3 linked regions of the Homo sapiens genome follow. The protein of the gene in region 2 interacts with the protein of the main gene of each other region in a pairwise test. Each region holds a gene or a part of one and is shown on either strand. Other genes may lie near its edges.

The links. The genes of interacting proteins can lie anywhere in the genome.
Region 1: the proteins of USP40 (region 2) and TRAPPC8 interact in a two-hybrid assay, tested with the Homo sapiens proteins (one study listed by BioGRID).
Region 3: the proteins of USP40 (region 2) and HINT1 interact in a two-hybrid assay, tested with the Homo sapiens proteins (one study listed by BioGRID).

The regions. Positions count from the first base shown.
Region 1 is NC_000018.10:31,940,125-31,947,937, reverse strand, and holds the start of TRAPPC8 (trafficking protein particle complex subunit 8), read left to right. Parts: upstream 1-4,809; 5' UTR 4,810-5,173; coding exon 5,174-5,330; intron 5,331-7,813. UniProt on the Homo sapiens protein: Plays a role in endoplasmic reticulum to Golgi apparatus trafficking at a very early stage. Maintains together with TBC1D14 the cycling pool of ATG9 required for initiation of autophagy. Involved in collagen secretion.
Region 2 is NC_000002.12:233,486,765-233,493,786, reverse strand, and holds part of USP40 (ubiquitin carboxyl-terminal hydrolase 40), read left to right. Parts: intron 1-235; coding exon 236-362; intron 363-2,525; coding exon 2,526-2,620; intron 2,621-2,715; coding exon of another isoform or gene 2,716-2,755; intron 2,756-3,888; exon of another isoform or gene 3,889-4,125; intron 4,126-4,303; coding exon 4,304-4,422; intron 4,423-5,482; coding exon 5,483-5,548; intron 5,549-5,770; coding exon of another isoform or gene 5,771-6,023; exon of another isoform or gene 6,024-6,106; intron 6,107-7,022. UniProt on the Homo sapiens protein: May be catalytically inactive.
Region 3 is NC_000005.10:131,162,253-131,169,528, reverse strand, and holds the start of HINT1 (adenosine 5'-monophosphoramidase HINT1), read left to right. Parts: upstream 1-4,272; 5' UTR 4,273-4,323; coding exon 4,324-4,434; exon of another isoform or gene 4,435-4,469; intron 4,470-6,852; coding exon 6,853-6,957; coding exon of another isoform or gene 6,958-6,978; exon of another isoform or gene 6,979-7,051; coding exon of another isoform or gene 7,052-7,147; exon of another isoform or gene 7,148-7,276. UniProt on the Homo sapiens protein: Exhibits adenosine 5'-monophosphoramidase activity, hydrolyzing purine nucleotide phosphoramidates with a single phosphate group such as adenosine 5'monophosphoramidate (AMP-NH2) to yield AMP and NH2.

The sequences.
Region 1 (7,813 bases), on a different chromosome or scaffold from region 2:
TTCTCTAGTTTGCTGACGTTAGTATAAATTTAATTTGCCTTTTTTGTTTTTGAGATGGAGTCTTGCTGTATTGCCCAGGCGGGAGTGATCTTGGCTCACTGCAACCTCCACCTCCCAGGTTCAAGCGATTCTCAGCCTCCCAAGTAGCTTAGACTACAGGTACATGCCACTATGCCTGGCCAATTTTTGTATTTTTGGTAGGGACGGGTTTCACCATGTTGGCCAGGCTGGTCTCGAACTCCTGACCTCAGATGATTTGCCTGCCTCGGCCTCCAAAAGTGCTGGGATTACAGGCATGAGCCACTGTGTGCCTGGCCTAATTTGCTTTGTTTTGACATTGAAAGAATCCTGACTAAAAGGTCTGCTACTATGGTCACAGTAAATATTGTCGACAAAAAGTATCAAACTCTTTAAAACATTTAAAGAGGATTATTCTTTTTTTTTTTTTTTTTAGACAAACTCTCACTCTGTTGCCCAAACTGGAGTGCAATGGCGTGATCTTGGCTCACTGCAACCCCCACCTCCCGGGTTCAAGTGATTCTCCCACCTCAGCCTCCTGAGTAGGGGACTACAGGCACGCGCCACCATGCCTGGCTAAAATTTTGGTATTTTTAGTACAGACCGGGTTTCACTATGTTGGCTAGGCTGGTCTTGAACTCCTGACCTTGTGATCCGCCCACCTTGGCCTCCCAAAGTGCTGGGATTACAGGTGTGAGCCACCGTGCCCGGCCCTGAAGAGGTTTATTCTAAACAAAATATGAGTGACCAAGGCCTGAGGCATAGTCCCAAGAGGTACTGAGAATATGTGCCCAAGACTGTTGGGTTACAGCTTGGTTTTAATACAATTTAGGGAGACATAACACACCAATCAATACATTTGGGGTATACATTGGTTTGGTTGGGGAAGGTGGGACAACTTGAAGAGGGTTTGGGGGAGGGCTTATAGGTCATAGGTGGATTAAAAGATTTCCTGATTGGCAATTGGTTGAAAGAGTGAAGTTACTATTTAAAGACCTGGAATAAACAGAAAGGAATGCCTGGATTAAGATAAGGGGTGGTGGACACTAAGGTTCTTATTATGTAGATGAAGTCTCCTAGGTGGCCATCCTTAGAGACAATAGATGGCAAATGTTTCCTATTCTGACCTGTAAAAGGGGCTAGACTCTCAGCTAATCTCTTCAGAATTGGGAGGGCCTGGAAGGGGGAAACATCTAATTATGTTGATAGAGATTCTTTTTTTTTTTTTTTTTTTTTTTTTTTAGATGGAGTTTTTTGCTCTTCTTGCCCAGGCTGGAGTGCAATGGTGCGATCTTGGCTCACTGCAATCTCTGCCTCCTGGGTTCAGGTGATTCTCCCGCCTCACCCTCCAGAGTAGCTGGGATTACAGGAGCCCACCACTACGGCCGGCTAAATTTTTAGTAGAGACGGGGCTTCACCATGTTGGCCGGGCTGACCTCAGGTGATCCACATGCCTCGGCCTCCCAAAGTGCTGGGATTGCAGGTGTGAGCCACTGCACCCAGCCAACAGAGATTCTTAACAGATGCAATTACCTCTCTCCCCACAAAATAGCTTTGCAGGGGCATTTCAAAATACGGCAAAGAAATATATTTTGAGGTAAAATACTTTGATTTCCTTTATCTGTCATGTGATGTTATGCCAGAGTCAAGTTGGAAAGTAAGCCATATTATATAAGTTTACATAAAACCCATCTGATAACTTTTCTTTTTTTTGAGACGGAGTCTCGTTCTGTTGCCCAGGCTGGAGTGCAGTGGCACGATATTGGCTCACTGCAACCTCCACCTCCTGGGTTCATGTGATTCTCCTGCCTCAGCCTCCTGAGGAGCTGGGATTACAGGCACACACCACCACGCCCAGCTAATTTTTTGTGTATTTTTGGTAGACGGGGTTTCACTATGTTGGCCAGACTGGTCTCGAACTCCTGACCTCGTGATCCACCCACCTCAGCCTCCCAAAGTGCTGGGATTACAGGCGTGAGCCACCGCGCCCGGCCCATTTGATAACATTTTATGTTTTGTAGGGTGTGACTCCACAGGCCCCTTAGATAGGAATTCGGGGAGGAGGGGAAAAATGTCAGAGTTAAGTCCTCAGTATCATCTCCTTTAAGGTGTTTCCACAGTTCAAACAGTACCTTGTCAAAAGAAAGAAGAGACCAGGATAGACTACGAAAGAATTAGATTTACACAGTGAAGTTACTCACTGGAAACACTGTGTATGGGTGTGGTATTAGATTGTGAAGTCAGGCTGGGTGTGGTGGCTCACACCTGCAATCCCAGCATTTTGGGAGGCTGAGGCAGAAGGATCACCAGAGCCCAGAGTTTGAGGCCAGCCTGGGCAATACAGTGAGCCCTCATCTCTATATATTAAAAAAAAAACAACAACTGCAAAGTCAATGCATAAGACAAAAATCCATTTAGGCTCAGCCATAAAAAGGAATGAAGTAATGATTCATGTTACAACATGGATGAACCTTTAAAATATATTGATGAGTGAAGTAATATGTGTACAAAGGCCACATATTGTATAATTTCACTTATATGAAATGTCCAGAATAGGTAAATCTACACAGACAGAAAGTAGATTAGTGATTGCCAGGAGTTGGAGGGCATGGCAGGGTGCAGAATGATAAAAGCCTGTACAAGCCTTCTTTTTGGGATGAACATGTTCTGGAATTAGATAGTAGTAATGGTTGCACAACTTTTGGAATAAACTGAAAACCAATGAATTGTACACTCATCTGAAGGGGTAAATATTATGGCATGTGAATTATATCTCAGAAAAATCTATTTTGGCTAAATTACCATTGAAAGTCCTTTTCAAAGAGTCTAATTCAGCTGTTTTTACTTTCAGCATAAAAATAAATGGCCTTTGAAACTTTTTAGAGTACTAGATAAATAGTATGTTTGCATTTGGGAGTCCTGTTATAAAAAATGTATCTTATAACTTGAGTCACACTAAATTATGTGAGATTCTCACATTATAAAGGGTAAGGAAGTGAATCAGAAGCATTGAAAAGGGATTGTGTGTAACATGTTATCTCTTGCAAAAGGAAATTAAATTTTGGGACCCCAAACTGATTTAGCCAAAGGGAAAAGTCACGCTGGGACTGGTCACGCAAATCTGCCTCCCCCTTTTGGTTCCTAAATAAGATTGCTGCAAGATGAAAAGCTACATCTCTCCCCCGTATTTTGCCCACAAGGAAATTCTTAGTGTGCTGTTAAAACTTCATGGCAATGCAAATTGATAGCTTATCTTTACAGGTGGCCACCCCAGCCCGCCAGACACAAATGCCTATCTGATTGTTCCCCTACCCCATTTTGTCTGTTATCTTATGAAAAATGCAGACTCCCACATTCTTCCTCTGCCCATTTTATGTCATCTTATGTAAAAAATGCAGATTCACTGAGCCAGAGAAAGGCAAGAATTACTATTTTCTCCTACCGCCCCCTTACATGAAAACGGTGTGCTTCTCAATATCCCGCCCTTTCCCCTTTAAATTTGGAGCACTCAAAATCATCTTCGAAGAAAGGCATAGACCTGTTTCCTGGGCTCGTACTTAACTTCGGCAAATAAATCTCCTAAAGTGATGGACTCTCTTATAAATTAATCTGTAGCCAAGGCATGTCATCAATATGTCCTACTGTGCCTTCCTACCTCCCATTTATCAACTTACATGAGAAGCACACATCTTACTTGTCATAAATTATTACCTTAGTGAAAACCTGAGGGTGTCAAGAAGTCGAAAAATTTGAGACATTGACGTTGGGGAAGACACCTTTAATTAGAGCACCATAAAATCATGATAGAATGATACATTTTTCCTTGCCTTATATTTTTGGCATGCAAAACAGAAGGAGCTCAAACAATTGAGTGACACATTAGTAAAATTCCTTTCATTCATTTCTACTTACAAGGCACACACCATTGACCTCACCCCGTCCCCCCCTTTAAAACAATATTTGACCCGCGCCCCCCCCCCTTTAAAGCAATCTTTGAAAAGTTAGGAATGAAAGCCGGTTCAGGACAGTACACAGTACACAAATACTGGCTTCCCCTACCTCCACCACAAGCAAGTAAACATCCTAGCACAGTGTAAAAAGGAAGAGGCTGAGGACGAACCACGCGGACATTTGCAGGCACACCCCTTCCCTGCGACCAACAAAAATGCAGTAGCGCAATTACACTTGAAGGAATTGCAGCACTCACAAAAGCACACATTCTGTTCAATGGTTGAGTCCACATAAAGTGACAGTCCGTTTCTAAAAGCATGGCTGTATTTAAAGGACACATGGTCTGTTCAGGTCCGCTTCAGCGAAACCCCAAGCACTTCCGAGAGATCCACTCCCTCTCTCCGAGCAGGTGCCACTAGCTGCTCCGCCGGCGAGCGTAGGAAGCAGCGCGACCAACCAAATCGGTTGCCCACAACAGCCAGGGACGTCAAAAAGGCCAAACTGCGTGGGAAGCGAGCGTGCGCCTCCATCACCACGACAGCACCCGTCTCGAGGCTCCACCTGCCGCTAGTAGGTGGCTCTCAGCTCTGCTCTGCTAAGGGCGAGCTTGAGAACCCGGCCTACAGTTGTGCACCTCCCCCCGCCCCCGCCCCCGCCCCCGCCCCCGCCCACCGCACTTGTAGCCCCGCCCCGCCCAGGGAGCTTCCGTCACAACACTTCCGGCTCCAGCCTCCCAACCGGCCTCCGTCGTTTTTCACTTCCCTCTCCTCAGCTCTCTTCCCTTGCCCCTACCGTCTCCTTTAACACAGTCACGTGAGGGACGCGCGCGGGGGCAGCTGGGAGTAGTACTGCCGGTTGGTCAGGGTTCGGCCTCAACATGGCGGTTCCGGCCGGGCAGTGACCAAGGTTTTGCCGTCCGAAGGACTAAGTGGTGACTGTCGGCGTCTCCACCTATCGGGGTGGAATGCGAGCACGCGGGGACGAGCGCTGAGAAGCGGCGGTGACGGGAAGGGGGGGGTCAGTGGATTGTGCCCCAGAAACCGAAGCGGCGGCGTCTGTTCCTTCTTGTTTCTAGGCTCCAGTGCGTTCGGGGCCCCGCCCGGCCGGGCCAGGCCGGCGGGCGGCGGCGGTAGCTGCTGCAGCCGCAGGATAACCTCGCAGGGTGGGCCGGAGGGCGGGCGCCGCCGCTGCCTGTGCTGCGGCGATGGCCCAGTGTGTACAATCAGTGCAGGAGCTAATCCCGGACTCCTTCGTCCCCTGTGTCGCTGCGCTGTGCAGCGACGAAGCCGAGCGGCTCACTCGTCTCAATCACCTCAGCTTCGCGGAGCTGCTTAAGCCCTTCTCCCGCCTCACTTCCGAGGGTATGTGGTATCCTCCCTTTTCCAGTGGGCTCCCGCAAAGCCGTGGTCGGGAGAAGGAAGTTGCGGGCGGGCAGGGAAGAGAAGGGCAGTGTTTACGTCCTGGAGCCGGTACCGTGGCGTCTGGGGCTGTGGCCCCGCGGTGCTCCGGGGGCGGCTGGAGGAGGGACCGTGAGGTTGTCAAGACAGCGCAGTCCTAAGCTCCAGTTTCTCTGGGCACTTCCTTTCTTCCTCGGACAACCTAGGTCGTTAAGTAATTGGTGCAAAGATAAACGTGAGTCTTCGAGAACGGCATTGAGACTGTTCTCCACGGCCATAGCGAAGGAATTAGGCACTTGCAAAGCAGCTAAGGTAGGAAAATGCTGCCTCTTAGACCGACAGGGTCTGAGTAAGGAAGACCTGTCATCCTCCCTTGGATGTTAAACTGGACTTTGAAAGTAGTTGTGGATGTTATTACATTCTTGTAGCGTTGAGGGTCATCTCTGTCTGAACTACCGTGTAGCTGTTTTACTAATATATTCTTAGCTATACGGTATTTTGCTTAACCTCTCAAGAAAATTAAAAGTATTATAAGAAGAATAAAACTTGAAGCAGCTTTTTGCCCTAAGGAAGAGGAAGCAAGCCCAAGTTGTGGTTAATTTAACCTGGATATTTGGAGTTATCTATAGTTATAGGGATGGAAATGTCTTCTCTTGTTAATGAATGTCTTGTTAAGAAGCTACCCGTTTTCTCCAGTTTTGGATTTTTTTATTAGGAGAAAATAATGTGGTAAAGCTTCAAGCATGTTTTAGCCAATATCTTGCAAACAACAAAGTCCAAGTAAAGTTTTTTTTGTTAAGGTCGGTAAGAACTGAAGGGTTTCATAATAAGCCTGTGTCAGGCAAACGACTGTGATGTTTGTTAGCTTAATATGACTTATCCACAAAAAAAATCAGTGCTGTACCATTTTTGCGCTACCATGTTTTTTGGGAGAATAGTTCCATTATAAATTAGCTTTTGTTTTTAGCGGAGAGAGGGAGCTGTCCAAAAAAACAAAGTTTGGAAACTTTTGGATTTTCTTTAGCCTGTATCGTAGCCATCAGTCTCAGTTCCTTCAGTGTTGGACTTAAGAGCAACAAAATGCCCTACGTTTTTTATTTTTTTGTTATTTATTTATTTATTTATTTTGAGATGGAGTTTCGCTCTTGTTGCCCAGACTGGAGTGCAGTGGCGCGATCTCAGCCCACCGCCACCTCCGCCTCCCAGGTTCAAGCGATTCTCCTGCCTCAGCCTTCTGAGTAACTGAGATTACAGGCATGCGCCACCATACTCGGATAATTTTTGTATTTTTAGTAGAGACAGGGTTTCTCCATGTTGGTCAGGTTGGTCTCGAACTCCCGACCTCAGGTGATCTGCCCGCCTCGGCCTCGCAAAGTGCGGGGATTATGGGCGTGAGCCACCGCGCCCGGCCTTGAATTCCTAAAAAAACACAAACACTTGAGCTAGTTTTACTTTTATATGTGTACTCTTTCCTTCTTTCTTAATAAATAATAATAATGCTAATACCTGATACTTGCTTTGTGTAACTTTTCTTTTTTAGTCCTCATTGAATCCTGTTATTGCAATTTTAAATTTGAGGACCTTGAAGCATAGAAGTGTTAATTTGTTCACAGTTTTGCGTCTGGGAAAGATTTGAAACAGGCAGTGTGACTCAAGACATTGTGTTCTTAATCATCTTATCTCCTGACAGTATTTAGAATTATGTATTTACACCATAGAGCAGTGCTGTCTAATTGAAATATAATGTGAGTCACAGGTATAATTAAAAAATTTTCGGCCGGGCGCGGTGGCTCACGCTTGTAATCCCAGCTCTTTGGGAGGCCGAGGCGGGTGGATCACGAGGTCAGGAGTTCGAGACCATCCTGGCCAACATGGTGAAACCCCGTTTCTACTAAAAATACAAAAATTAGCTGGGCGTGGTGGTGGGCGCCTGTAGTCCCAGCTACTCGAGAAGCTGAGGCAGGAGAATCACTTGAACCCGGGAGGCACAGTGAGACTCCATCTCAAAACCAACCAAACAAACAACAACAACAAAAAATTTTAGTAGCCACATTAAAAAAGTAAAAAGAAACAAGTGAAATTAGTTTTTTTGTTTTTTGTTTTTTGGAGATGGAGTCTTGCCCTGTTGCCCAGGCTGGGAGTGCAGTGGCGCGATCTTGGCTCACTACAACCTCTGCCTCCCAGGTTCAAGCGATTTTCCAGCCTCAGCCTCCCGAGTAGCTGGGATTACAGGCGCTCACGGCTTATTTTTGTATTTTTAGTAGAGACAGGGTTTCACCATGTTGGCCAGGCTGGTCTCGAACTCCTGACCTCGTGGTCCGCCCGCCTCCGCCTCCCAAAGTGCTGGGATTACAGGCGTGAGCCACCGTGCCCGGCCGAAATTAGTTTTAATACTGTATTTTATTTAACTCAGTATTTCCAAAATGTTACTATTTCAATGTGTAATC
Region 2 (7,022 bases):
TAAGATACCTTTAAGCAAGGGATATTTAGTCCAGTCACCCCAAAGTCTGATTTTTATGATTTTAAATTTTTGATTGTAAAAACAAGTATAATTTATGACAGTTAATAAATCTAAAAGGAAAAATGATAAGTTCAAGAACATCTTAGGTCATCAAGGTGTTTCTTTCTATGGAAGTAAAAGTAGAGTTTCACTTAATCTTTGTAATCACAGCAGTTAAACATGCTCCATTCTTCAGGGTTTCCTGAAGGTGCCCATCTGGTGGTACCAGCTTCAGGGTCCCTCAGGACACTGGGAGAGTCATCAGGACCAGACCAACTGTACTTCGTCTTGGGGCAGAGTTTGGAGAGCCACTTCCAGCCAAGGTGAGAACAGAATGGGATTTCAGCAGCCAGTGCATCATAAAGAGAAGTAAATTGACTGCCTGTGCTCTGAGAGTCAATTGATATATTTATTTTTAAAACGTAAGATCTTGAAAATCAAGACCTATTAATTTCATAAGTCATTCCAGACATCACATAATAATAACACTGTGCCATTTCTGTACGTGCTCTGTAACCTCTGTAAAGCACTATATATCTTGTTGTTTATTATTATATCAATATATTACACTTTCCAAAGACTTTTATGTATCATCTCTCAAGATCCTCAGGGCAACAGGGGCCCCATTTATCACCACGTACCAGAATATTGAGACTTCATCCAATTCTAATGATGTCATTTTAGCCCACAGGGGCAGAGACCAGGAGTCCACATCCTACATGTCTTCCAATCTTTCTGCCTCAAAACCCTCAGGAACTGCTTCTAGGGCATTTGATATCATCTCACTGACTTCTGAGAAGGAACATAGACAAGTACAAGCATGTTGTCTTACTCAGCACTCAGCCGCACACATCACGATGGGCAGAAGTCACTATCAGTGAGTTCTGTTGCCCTTGTACAAAGAGGAGTTCCACTTCATTATAAAGAAATGGAGCGAGTATATTTTTAATAGGCCCAACTCTTTAGCTATGTTTTTCTTTTTATCAGGCTTTACTTATTTAGTTTTTCTAGTGCCTTGAAGTATATTACTTATATTTCTTTTTAATCTTTTCAGCCTCAGTAATAAAATTAATATAAATGAGTCAAATTCTTATCTCCTTATTCTTTGAAGTTAGGATTATATAGAGAGAGTAATGTTGAATGAGCTATAAAATTGGCATAAAGTTACTTTTTAGTTGGGTTACAGTAGTTCATGTTAACTAATGCTAAAAATGCCTTGGTGATAGAATTCTAGTTACATATAGAATTGGATATAGATTGTAAAAGCATGTTTAATCAGTATGTTTCTACGTGAAAAGTAAATAAAAGGTTCTTTTTTTGGTAATACATCTGTACACAACACATGGGAAATGCACTCATGTGTCACTTAACAACATGAATATGTTTTGAGAAATGCATCGTCAGATGATTTCATCATTATGTGAACACGGTAGAGTGATTTACACAAACCTAGATGGTAGAGCCTCCTACACACCTAGGCTATGTGGTGTAGCCTCTTGCTCATAGGCTACAGACCTGTACAGCAGCTTACTGTATTGAATACTGAAGGCGAATCATAACACAGTGGCAGGTGTTTGTGTATCTAAACAGAAAAAGGTACAGTGAAAATACAGTATTATAATCTTATAGGATCACATCACATGTGTGGTCTTTGACCAAATCATTATGTAGCAGGTGATTATATATTTCATTCTTTAGAATTTCCTAAAATTATCTTTCCGGTAGTGTCAGCCTGTAATTTCCTTAAGACACAAGAGGAACTTCTCATGCACTTAGTTGACTTCTAATCTCTCTGTAATTTCTTGCTATGCATTAGTGGCATGCTCAGCAGTAAAGACAGTTAAGGCAAAAATAAGTGAAGACAGTCTAAATTTAGTTGCCAGCTTTTATATTGTTTTTGATGAGAAAGCATTGTGTTTTTCCCTTTTTTTAAACAAACTTGGAAAGGCCTTCTTATTGTCAAGATTTCCTTATAAATAAACATTTATTGGGCATTTACTATGTGGCACCCATTGTACCAGGAACTGGGGAGACAAGATAGATGGCCTGCCTCCTCTTGAAAATTCTGTTGTTTTGAGGAGGCAGATTAAACGCCTGCACACAGACAGACAGACACACACACACACACACACACACACACACACGAGGAACAGGTTGGGATGAGTGTTATGATGAGGAAACAGGAAGCTAACATACAGAATGCAGCCAGCATATCCTACCCAAAAAGTCCTCTTTGAGGAAGGAGAGAATGTGGAAAAGTACATTCAAGGTAGGGGCATAAGTGTCACAGACCTCTTGGGAGTCTGCCGACAACATGTCCCTGCCTGCTTACCTGCCAGACAGGGCCTCCTCATAAGACTTGGATGCAGAGGCTCTTGAGTGGAATTTTAATAACCTATTTACAATATCAAAACATGGCAATGTATTTCAGAAACACAAAATAAGTTTCAAGTTCCTTGTAAACATCCCGCTCTGTCCTTTGGAAGGTGCTTCTGGGAACGAGCCTGCGCAAGTTTCTCTCCTCTACTTGGGAGACATAGAGATCTCAGAAGATGCCACGCTGGCGGAGCTGAAGTCTCAGGTCAGACTTCTTCCTGCACCATAACTTAGTGGTAATGTGGCTTCTTCCAGTGAGATATTAATATATTCTTCTATCTCCTTTTCCCTCAATTACAGTCTGTTCTGATATGGCATTTGTCATATGCCATGTTCAGTGGTAAGTACCCGCAGGCAATACACGCCCATGGTGCAGACGGCTCCTCGTGGCCTCACTGGTCCCTCCTCTGACAGGCATGCTGTGCTTTTGTTTCAATCTATCCTCAGTGACTTGCGGCTTTTGTTCATTTTTATTTTTTTAGGGAAACATGGTTTCTTGGAACATTTGTAAAGCATTCACTTTATCCCTTTATTTACATTGTTTGTGTACCATTGTGACCCATATGTTAAATGTTGTTATGAAAAGCTGTGTTACCAGTTTTCCAGGAGGTTAGAACTCCAGCTTTTATGTTAGGATGCTAAACTAGATATTCTAGGTATTGTGTTGTTTCTTATGCATTAACGTTCACAGAGAAGGAGGGTTTTATCCAAATGGAAGGGCTGGATTAAGCACAATGCAGTGTTGAAGCAGCATCCGCCTACTGTTGGACTGAAATGAGCATTCCTTTCTTCTCTTAGAGGAGAAAATGTGGGGCCTATATATGACTAGTGGTTGTTGATGTTTGGCTTTTGTGCGCCCTCAGTATATGAAATACCCTTCCTCAAGAAAAAGCATATGTTGGCTGGGTGTGGTGGCTCATGCCTATAATCCCAGCACTTTAGGAGTCTGAGGCAGGCGGATCACTTGAGGTCAGGAGTTTGGGACCAACCTGGCCAACATGGTAAAACCCTGTCTCTGCTAAAAGTACAAAAAAAAAAAAAATTCACCTGGCACGGTGGCAGGCACCTGTAATCCCAGCTACTCGGAGGCTGAGGCAGGAGAATCACTTGAACCCAGGACAGGGAGGTTGCAATGAGCTGAGATTGCGCCACTGCACTTCAGGCTGGGTGACAGAGTGAGACTCCGTCTCAAAAAAAAAAAAAAAAAAAAAGGAGAAAAGAAAAAGCAGACAGCCTTATTCTCATGAGAACAAATGGGAAAATACTTTTTTTTTCTCATATTAAGTTGAAAGATATAAAATTGCTGTTTTTAGGTCAAAAAATGGATGAATATTGGTAATTTTAGAGGCTCCAACCTAAGTATATCAGTAGGGGCTTAAAGTGATCCCTTCAGAATTAGAACAAGCAGTTTGGGCCTACTGATTGCAGCCAAAGATTTTGAAATACTTCAGAATCAAAAGCTGATTCATCGGCAGAGCAGACACTGGTGGAGGATTGCGCGGGCACGGAAGAAGGCTGCTGTTGTGTCCCTTGTTGTACTGTTAGAGCGGGCTCTGCCCTGGTGAATTCTACTCCCATGGAAGTTAATTCCAAAGTTTCATTTTTTAAACATGATGATTAAAAAGAAGCTTTTGACTCAGATTTAGAGAGAGGGAACTCACTTCTTTCTCAAGGTGATTTCAGTGCAGAGGAATATGAAGACCGCTCAGGGTTAGTGTTATTTAAGAGAGAGAGAGATTCCTGTGACTTTTAAAATGATGTTATCATTACTTGAGATACTCTTTCCTTGAGATGCCACTGTGTAGTGCTTCATTTTTTTTTTCTAAAACAGTATGTTTTGAAGAGTGCTTTTTAAAACCGTTGGAGAAATGTCTGTTTCTTTTTCTAGGCCATGACCTTGCCTCCTTTCCTGGAGTTCGGTGTCCCGTCCCCAGCCCACCTCAGAGCCTGGACGGTGGAGAGGAAGCGCCCAGGCAGGCTTTTACGAACTGACCGGCAGCCACTCAGGTAGGTTCCTTGCTGGACGCAACACTGTCCCTCTCTGCTGCTGACGCACTGGCTGGTGTGAGGGATGGAGGAGGAATCAGTCTTCTGAGCTGAGTGACAACAAAGCCCATTCCTGGTCATGCCACGCTTGTGACTTGGGTGACACTTTTCATCATAAACTCCAGCAGGCCTTCAGTTTTCCATGTTAAGTATAAATGTAGTGTTGTATATTTTTTCTGTGCTCCAGTGACTGTGACATTATATAACTTAAAAGCATTTGGAGTGAGATGGAAAGTAGGAGTGGCTGTTTCTCACTCAGAAATGTTGGATTCAGCTGATCCTCCTCCTGAAACTTTGAACTTAAAGAGCAGGTTTGGGTCATTTCCTTTGCAAAAAGCAGCCTTGAGGCTTTTTGTTTCTTTCTTTCTCGTTTCTTTCTTTTCTTTCTTTCCTTTCTTTCCTTTTCTTTCTTTTCTTAATAGACAGGGTCTGGCTCTGTCGCCCAGGCTGGAGTGCAGTGGCGTGATCATGGCTCAACTACAGCCTCAACCTCCTGGGCTCAAGTGATCCTCCCACCTCAGCCTCCTGTGTAGCTGGGACCTCAGGCATGTGCCACGACACCAGGCTAATTTTTTGTTTTGACGAGGTCTCCCTATGTTGCCCAGTCTGGTCGCGAACTCCTAGCCTCAAGCAATCCTTCCACCTTGGCCTCCCAAAGTGCTGGGTTACTGGCGTGAGCCACTGTGCCTGGCCAAGGCTGCTTTTAATCGGTTCTGATTACCACCCCAAAGTGACTGGCATGAGAATCTTAACCCCGGCTGAACAGAGGGAAATTTCTTTGGCAGTTTGGCCATCTTCCCAGAGCCAGACCTACATGTTTAGTAAGAAATGACTCAAGTATCTAAATAATCACCGCAGCAAGGATTCTCATTTTTTCCCCTTTTCCAAAAGTTTGGGTGTTCTTATAAGTACTCAGAAAACAATTCTTTGCTTAAGAAAAAAGCTTAAAATTGGGGGAAAAAAAATTCAAGAAAATTAAATGTTATGTCACTCAATATTATCTTGTTTCACTTATTATCAGGGAATATAAACTAGGACGGAGAATTGAGATCTGCTTAGAGCCCCTTCAGAAAGGCGAAAACTTGGGGTAAGAAATTCTCCTGTGCATCTGAAGTGACACACACGTATCTTAACCTCGTTTGCCTTTTGAAGCTTTAACAACTTCATAGTGTAGCATTTTTTTCACTGCTTCTAAGTAGCCTAGCAACTTGAAACAGAGTGTGTGCTAGAAATATGTTTGTATGTCTGGGCATCTAAAACTTGGGACTTATTCTCCCATAAAAACAGTAAGGGAGAATTAATTTTTCAGTAATCACCAGGTGCATATTGACCCCATGATGGCCCTGAAGTGTCAGCAAGAGGCCCACCCGCAGCTGTTGTCAGTGTGTTCGGACAGTCTGCCATCCAACGGATTCATCATTGCTCCCGTCGCTCTGCCCCCTTATTCTACTTTCTTCATCCTAGTATCACCTGACATATCTGTACTTACTGATTTATTTGTTAGTATCTGTCTCCCACTACTAGAATATAAGTACTTGGTTTATTCATTGCTATATCCTTAATACCTAGAATAGTAATTGTGCCCATGTCATAGTCAATAATTATTTATTAAATAAAGATACACCCAAAATTGTCTACAATCAAACCATCTTGTTCTTTTTTCGCTGTAGGAAAATATTTTACAAGTCCTTTTGTAAATATCATGAACTATTAAGATTTGCTCTACCTATTATGATATGAGTATCCTTCTTGTGGTCTGCTTGTTATATGAGAAAGTTATCTTTCAACCATGTCTAACATGTATTTAATTTTAGTGTTTTTATAAAAACACATTCTTAATACAAGTTGTACAACCAGAAATAGTTTCCTGGAGGGGAATTCCAGGATCAAATGGTGTGGACATTTTAAACCTCTTAAAATAGTTAAATATTTCTTCAGGCAAGTTGTTCCAGAATATGAGTATTTATTTTACCTCACCCACAAACCAGCATTGACTATTTCATCGTCTAGGTATTTCCTAAATTGATAAATGAAAGATGATTATCTTGTTCTCATATTCTCCAGTGCTTTGATGACTAATAAGTTCAGGCATTTTTGCAAACTGTATTTTGTGAGTGCATGATTGAGTTATTTCGTGTATTTTGACTGCTTCTGTAATGAAGTCTAAAGGAAAAGCTCTCTTGGAATTTGTGTGAGCTCTTTATGATTTTGACCCTTTGTCACAATGGTTGTAAGCTGTGTCAGGTTTTGATAGGCACAGTGCCTTTTGCCCTTTTGAAGAGCAGCTGTGTGCCTCCTCAGGCCCCTTCCATGGGCTTTTCTGTCCTTGACCAACTTCCAGGGCACTCCTGCTCTCAAGGAGGCCTCTAGTCCCTCCTGTTTCTCTCCAGCAGCCTCTGTCCCCTCCTTGGCAACTTCAGCATCTGTGCCGATGCCCTTTCTGTCCTCTGGCCGCACTGTGCTGGGCTCCAGGCCTTGGCCTCACTCCCTGGCCAGCAGCCCCCTCCCCCATGGGGACATGGGGCTGTGCAGCCTCTGCTCTTGCACTCTGCACTCCCCTG
Region 3 (7,276 bases), on a different chromosome or scaffold from region 2:
GTCACCCCAAAATAATCAAAAGGCTAAGGATCCAGTTAAAAAGGTTTATTCAACTGTAAAGTGTAAGGGCAGTCATATGGGAACATGTAGACACCAAAGAATGCTGATCAGTGCTTCCAGCGTAAGGAAAATTGAAGATGGTTTATATAAGACAAAATGGAGATGCCAAACAGAATTACAACATTTTCCAAACAATGGATAACATCCAGATTTAAGATCTGATTGGCTAGTATTGATTACACTCTAAGGTGGTTGCTTAATATTCTATCGTAAAAAAGTAACAATCACAAGGGTCTACAGCTCTAATATTATGTAGTCCAGGTTTGAAACGAAGAATAGGGAGTCTGATTAATGTATAACATCTCAACACAAAGGTCGGGAAGCAACAATAGTCATGCACCAGAGAAGAAAAACAGCTGTATTACATGACTCAGTTTTCAAGGCTTAACTTTGCCCCCTTGGCTTAATAAATTTGGAAGGTTCTGAAATTTCATTGTCTTTTTAAAGTTTGCATCTCAAAGTATAAGTCGCAGAACTGAACAGGAAATTCCAGCATGTTCATCATGTAAGTTCACAGAGCTATGTAGTAGGCAGAATAATGGCCTCCAGAAGATAACTGTTGAGATTCCGGAACCTCTGACTATGTTATATATGACAAGAGGCTTTGAAGATGTCATTAAATTAAGTATTTTGAGATGGGAAGATTATCCTGGATTGTGTGCTGGACTCAGTGTAATCACAAGGATCCTTATAAGTGAAAGAAGGAAGCAGAGTCAGGGAGAAGTTTGAAGATGTTCTGCTGCTGGCTTTGAAGATGGAGGAAGATGGAGGAAGGGGCCACAAACCAAGCAAGCCTCCTCTAGAAATTGGAAACGGTGAGGAAATGATTTCTTCCCTAGAGCATCCAGAAGGAATGCACCCTTGCCAACACTTGATTTTAGCTCAGTGAAACTCAATTTGGACTTCTGACTTACAAAATGCTACCTGTTTTTGGCTCCTTCCATTTTCTTTTCCTTTTTTTTTTTTTTTTTTTTTTTTTTTTGAGAAGGAGTCTCCTACTGTCGCCCAGGCTGGAGTGCAGTGGCATGATCTCAGCTCACTGCAAGCTCCGCCTCCCTGATCTCAGCTCACTGCAAGCTCCGCCTCCCGTGTTCACGCCGTTCTCCTGCCTCGGCCTCCTGATTATCTGGGACTACAGGCGCCTGCCACCACGCCCAGCGAATTTTTTATATTTTTAGTAAAGACGGGGTTTGACCATGTTAGCCAGGATGGTCTCAATCTCCTGACCTCGTGATCCGCCTGCCTTGGCCTCCCAAAGTGCTGGGATTACAGGCGTGAGCCACCGCACCTGGCCCAACTCCTTCCATTTTCAAAGCCAATAATGGAGCTTTTTTTTTTTTTTCGAGACAGAGTCTTACCCTGTTGCCAAGGCTGCAATGGCATGATCTCGGCTCACTGCAACCTCCGCCTCACAGGTTCAAACGATTCTCCTGCCTCAGCCTCCCGAGTAGCTGGGATTACAGGCTCCTGCCACCATGCCCAACTATTTTTGGTATTTTTAGTAGAGACAGGGTTTCACCATGTTGGCCAGGCTGGTCTCAAACGCCTGACCTCATGATAGCCCACCTCGGCCTCCCAAAGTGCTGGGATTACAGTCGTGAGTCACCACACCCGGCCGAGCATTTTCAAATCTCAGACTCTCACCTCTGCCTCTGTGGTCACATCTCCTTCTCTTACTCTCACTCTTCTGTGTCTCTCTTTCACTTACAAGGGCTGTTGTGATTACTTTGGGCCCACCTAGATAATGCAGGAACCTCCCTATTCCAAGATCCTTAACTTAATCACATCTACAAAATCCCACTTACCATGTAAAGTAACATATTCACAGGCTCCAGGGATTAGGACATGGGCATCTTCTGCCTAGCACACTGAGTTTGCGTGATGCCAGTCAATAAGGTTGAAATGGAAAGAAATGAGGTAGAAGCAGCAGCAATGGGCCTGATCACACAGGGCCCTATAAGCCAAGGTAAGGATGTTGGATTTTATTCTGTGATGTTATACACTAGCATATTACCAGCAGGAGAGTGACATTATGATTTATATTTTATAAAGATCATTTTGGGTGCTGTGTGGCAAATTAACTACAATGGAAGCAGATAGGTTATCCAACTAGGAGCCTTTCAAAGTACTCCAGGAAAGAGATGTTAGTAGCTTGGATTAGAGTAGTGGAGATAGAGGAGATAAGTGATTAGATCCTTGGTGATGTGTGTTGAAAGTACAGAGAGAAGGTTTAAGGATGATTTCAAGGCTTTTTGGCTGGAGTGACTGGGTGAATGGTGGTACAGCAGATACAGAATCCTGCAAAAGGAGGTTTTGGTTTGTTTGTTGTGGAGGGAGTCAAAATAAAATTGCAGTGCCTGGTAGCCATCTAAGTGGAGGTGGTCAATAGGCTGTAATGTATGTCACAGACCAGTCTGGAATTAAGGGAAGAGGTAGGTCAAGAGACAAATACTTGAGAGTCACTACTCTATAGATGGTAAAGCCTTCAGATGGAATGAAAGCTGACCATGTTATTTATTATCCAAACCAGCACACATTTTTTTATTTTGACAATTTCAGACACATAAAAGTTGCAAGAATAATACATAGAATTTGCATATGCCTTTCAGTCAGATTCTCCAAATGTTAACATTTTATTGTAATTGCTTTATCCTTTTCTATTTCTCTAATTACCTATAGACAGACACTTTTTCTCTGAACTATTTGAAAGTAAGTTGCGGACATGATACCCATAGCCTTAAATACTTCAGTGGGTTTTTCCTACAAAGACATTCCCTTGTATCAGTAGTTCTTAAAGTATGGTTCCCGGGCCAGCAGCAACTGTATCACCTGGAAAGTTAGAAACCTAACTTGTAGGGCCCCACCCCAGATCAACTGATTTTGACAATTTTTCTGTGGTTATGAAAGGAAATTAACATGACTTCAAAACTATTATCTAATTTATAGGCATTATTTAGATTTTACGAATTGTCCCAGTAATGTCTTTGATAGCAAAAGTACCAAATGGACACTTTTGAGATTAAAGGCAACCACATTCAATAATTTTGCCAAGACAAGGGTAGTAATGTAATCATAAAAGGCAGCTGAGCTCACATCTGTAATCCCAGCACTTTGGGAGGCTGAGGCGGGTGGAACACCTGAGGTCAGAAGTTTGAGAACAGCCTGGCCAGCATGGGGAAACCCTGTCTCTACTAAAAATACAAAAATTAGCCAGGTGTGGTGGTGCGCGCCTGTAGTCCTAGCTACTTGGGAGGCTGAGGCATGAGAATCACTCGAACTCGGGAGGCAGAGGTTGCAATGAGCCGAGATTGTGCCACTGCAGTCGAGCCTGGGCGACAGAGCAAGAATCTATCTAAAAAAAAAAAAGGCATTGAGGAGGTATACTTTTTCTTAATACGTACACTTAGAGGTCTGGTATGATAACTGTAATTGTCTATAGGATTTTATAAATGGATGTCCTTAGTGACCTTGACAAGAGGGAAATGGACTCAAAAATGAAAGATAAGAAAGCAGACATGGTATGTAGAAAACTTCTTTATAAAACGAGCAAAGATACGGAGGGGGATGTGGGATTAAGGAAGGTTTTTTTTTTTAAAGTGGGTCATTTTATTAATACATTATGTTGATTGCTGCTGGGAAAAATTCTTTGCAGAGCAGTCTAGGGAGGTTTACAAACTACTGATGCCTGGGGCTCATCTCCAAAGATTCTTATTTAATGGATCTGGGCTGCAGCCAGGTTCACGGGGATTTTTAAAAGCTCCCCAAGTGATCTTAATGTGTAGTCAAGATTGAGAACCACTGGTAGAGAGAGAAAAAAACTCTGTTGAAGAGAGGACTTAAAATCTGCTGCAGCAGCAAGACCTTAAATAATCTAAGTGCTAAGTTGCAGCCAGCACCACTTAAATTATCAAATCTTGTCAGTTACAGTATCCAACTTTCCCTACAAGCATCCATAGGCAGACGAAGGGTTTATACCAGTAACTGCATTCCCCAGGAGACAAGAAAGGAGGATAGAAAAACGACTTAGGAATCTCCTTGGAGCTCAAGACCAGGAACTTCCCCAAGCCGGAGGTCCCTGAGGCGCTCTAGCGCGCTGGCCGCACTCGCAGCCCAGGTCGCCAGTGCGCACGCGCAAGATTAGGTGGGGCGCCAGAGCCGGGGCACCTGCGCAGGCTTGGCTGCGCCCTCTCGCGCCGCACGCTCTGCGGGTTCCTCCCTTCTTCCGAGCCTCTCCTCTGGCCGCCGCGCGGGAGAGAGGCCGAGATGGCAGATGAGATTGCCAAGGCTCAGGTCGCTCGGCCTGGTGGCGACACGATCTTTGGGAAGATCATCCGCAAGGAAATACCAGCCAAAATCATTTTTGAGGATGACCGGGTAGGTACTGGGCACCACCTCTCTCGCCTGCTGAGGTGGGTATCGTCCGCGGATCCTCGGGTTTCTCGCGGAGGGAGAGGAGGGGTCGCGAGTGTAGCGGCGACGGGAGGGGACCTGGCTGCCCTGGTCCAGCGGGCCCCCAGCCAGCGGACAGGGCCCGGGCACTCCGAGGCGGCCTGCCGGCGCGTGCCGGCGCTCCGGTTACTCGTTATCTGCCCCGGGCGCGGGCCAGGCCGCCGGGCGCCCTGAGTGCCGCACCGCGGGGCCTGGGCGCGTGTCGGGGCGCACTGGGGCCCCCGCGTGGAAGCCCGCCGGTTCCCCGGCTGCCTCGGACCTTGCCTGTATCAGGAATCTCGAAATCTCGCCAGCGCTCTGCCTGACAGAGAGAAACCCGATCGCGCCCTGACTCAGGCCCAATCTCCGCGATCTCCCGCGCACAGCCGGCCTGCCAGGGCCCGGCGTTCCTGGGCGCTGCTCAGCAAGGCATTGTGCTCGAGGGCCCCAGGGGCGCTGGGAGGTGCGCGGGCCGTCTGGGCCTGCCGGCTTCCTCCGCGGGGTGCGGCTTGCCACCCTCACCCCTACCCCTATCCCTATCTCCACCCCAAGGCCTACCCTGGGCTAGCGAGGCGATCTCCTGAGATAAGAAGTGGGCCCGCGTCTGGGATTTGCTTTCCGTTGACCTCTCCCGCTGAACATTTTGGACTTACAAACAGCTGAATGATTCTTTTTGTATTCAACAGGAAGTAATTTTATGCCAAGAGACTAAGACTGTAGTTTTTGTTGACTTCTTGTAGGTGAAATCCCAGTTGATGTGACTTTGAGATATCTTGTGTAAATTATTTAGTGGCCAGTTGTATTTTTGGGATTGGATCTCAGATAAAGCTGGGCAGATTGGCTGATTTAGATAGAACAAATTTTGTAAACAGTTTTGTTAAATTTAGGAAATATAAAATCTAAGAAAAACATTTATTCTACTAATGTCGGTTAGATTCAAAACGTTATCAAAAATTTAATTAGGTTCCTCTAGGTAAATTAAAAAAAAAAATACTTTGTCTCTACTCAGGGGAAATTCTTTGGTTTTAGAAAAAATATTTCTTTTTAAAGTTCGCAGTTGCCTTTGAGAAATGGTTCTTGAAAAATTTACATTTGAACCACCGAAGTCCAACTGTAGAACGGCAGGAAGCATTCTAAATGAATCAGCATTTTGTAGGGAGTACCCAGTAGAATTACTCCTGAGACAAATAAGTGTGGATGGGTTTTATTAAAACAGCTTTCACTTCAGCAGTGAGCAAGAGATTCGAAAATATTCATGTCATATGTGTATTTACAGACACTGTTTTAAATAATTAGTCTAAATGCTAAAGAATATCATATATATACTCTTCAGCTTTACACAAAAGGATAGGTATATTTCTTAAATAGTTGAGTAAAGTGAGAATAGATATTAATCAAGTATCAGACAAATATGTAGTTACAAAACTGATTGCTATCATAAAGAAAAAAAAAAAACCAGGAAATTGCACAACTAGGACTCTGACCTGGGAGTAATGGGACGGGGAGGGCAATCAGAGGTTTTTTTCTGTTTTTTCTTTTTTCTCCCAGAAATCATGTATGTGCTGGGAATGGAATGGCGGAATGACTAGCAGTTTAAATTAGACGGAAGTTGGGGTTTGGAGGGGGAGAGGATCATTGAAAAAGCTCTGAGGGCAGAGAGCTCAGAAGGCCAGTTCCATGTGAAGACCTGCAGGAGATCTGGAGAGGCAGGCAAGGATTAGCATGGCCAATTTTTATGCATTCATTGGCTCCCAGTTTAAATGTCACTGCCTCAGAGTTGTTCTTAAACACTTAATCTAAATCAGGCTTTTCCTGTAATGATCATTCATATTTTTCCTTTGTAACATGTATGACCTTTGGTGATTATACTTTTAAAGTTGGTCTTCCCATAAGACTTCCATGGAGTCCGGGTGCAGTAGCTCACGCCTGTAATCCCAGCACTCTGGGAGGCCGAGGCAGGTGGATCACCTGAGGTCAGGAGTTCGAGACCAGCCTGGACAACATGGTGAAACCCCGTCTCTACAAAAACACAAAAATTAGCTGGGCATGATGGCACGTGCCTGTAATCCCAGCTACTTGGGAGGCCGAGGCAAGAGAATCACTTGAACCCAGGAGGCGGAGGTTGCAGTGAGCTGAGATCATGCCATTGCACTACAGCCTGGGTGACAGAGTGAGATTCCATCTCAAAAAAAAAAAGACTTCCATGGAAAGGACCACGGCACCATTCGTAATGTGTACACTTCTGTTTTCTTAGCATCTAGTGCCCTCCATGTAGTTACTGCTCAGTAAATACTTGTTGAAATAAGTTTTATCCTACCAATATACTAAAAGTTTGATTTATTTATTTATTTCTCTTTTCCCTAGTGCCTTGCTTTCCATGACATTTCCCCTCAAGCACCAACACATTTTCTGGTGATACCCAAGAAACATATATCCCAGATTTCTGTGGCAGAAGATGATGATGAAAGTGTAAGTACATTTCTAACATGATTTATTTTCTTGCTTTTTAAATTGTGAGATTAATTTTGTCCTTAAAGTGCTGTCACATTTTCATCTTCCTAAGGTCATTACTAAGGAAAAACCAGAAAAACCATTAGGACTTCAACTGCCCAGCTGTTTTCCAAAGTTACTGCATCATTTTGTATCCCACCAGCAATGAATGAGCGTTCCAGCTTCTCCGTATCCTTATCAACACTTGCTATTACCTTTTTTTTTTTTTTTTGAGACAGAGTCTTGCTCTGTCGCCCAGGCTGCAGTGCAGTGGCACTCGGCTCACTGCAAGCTCCAC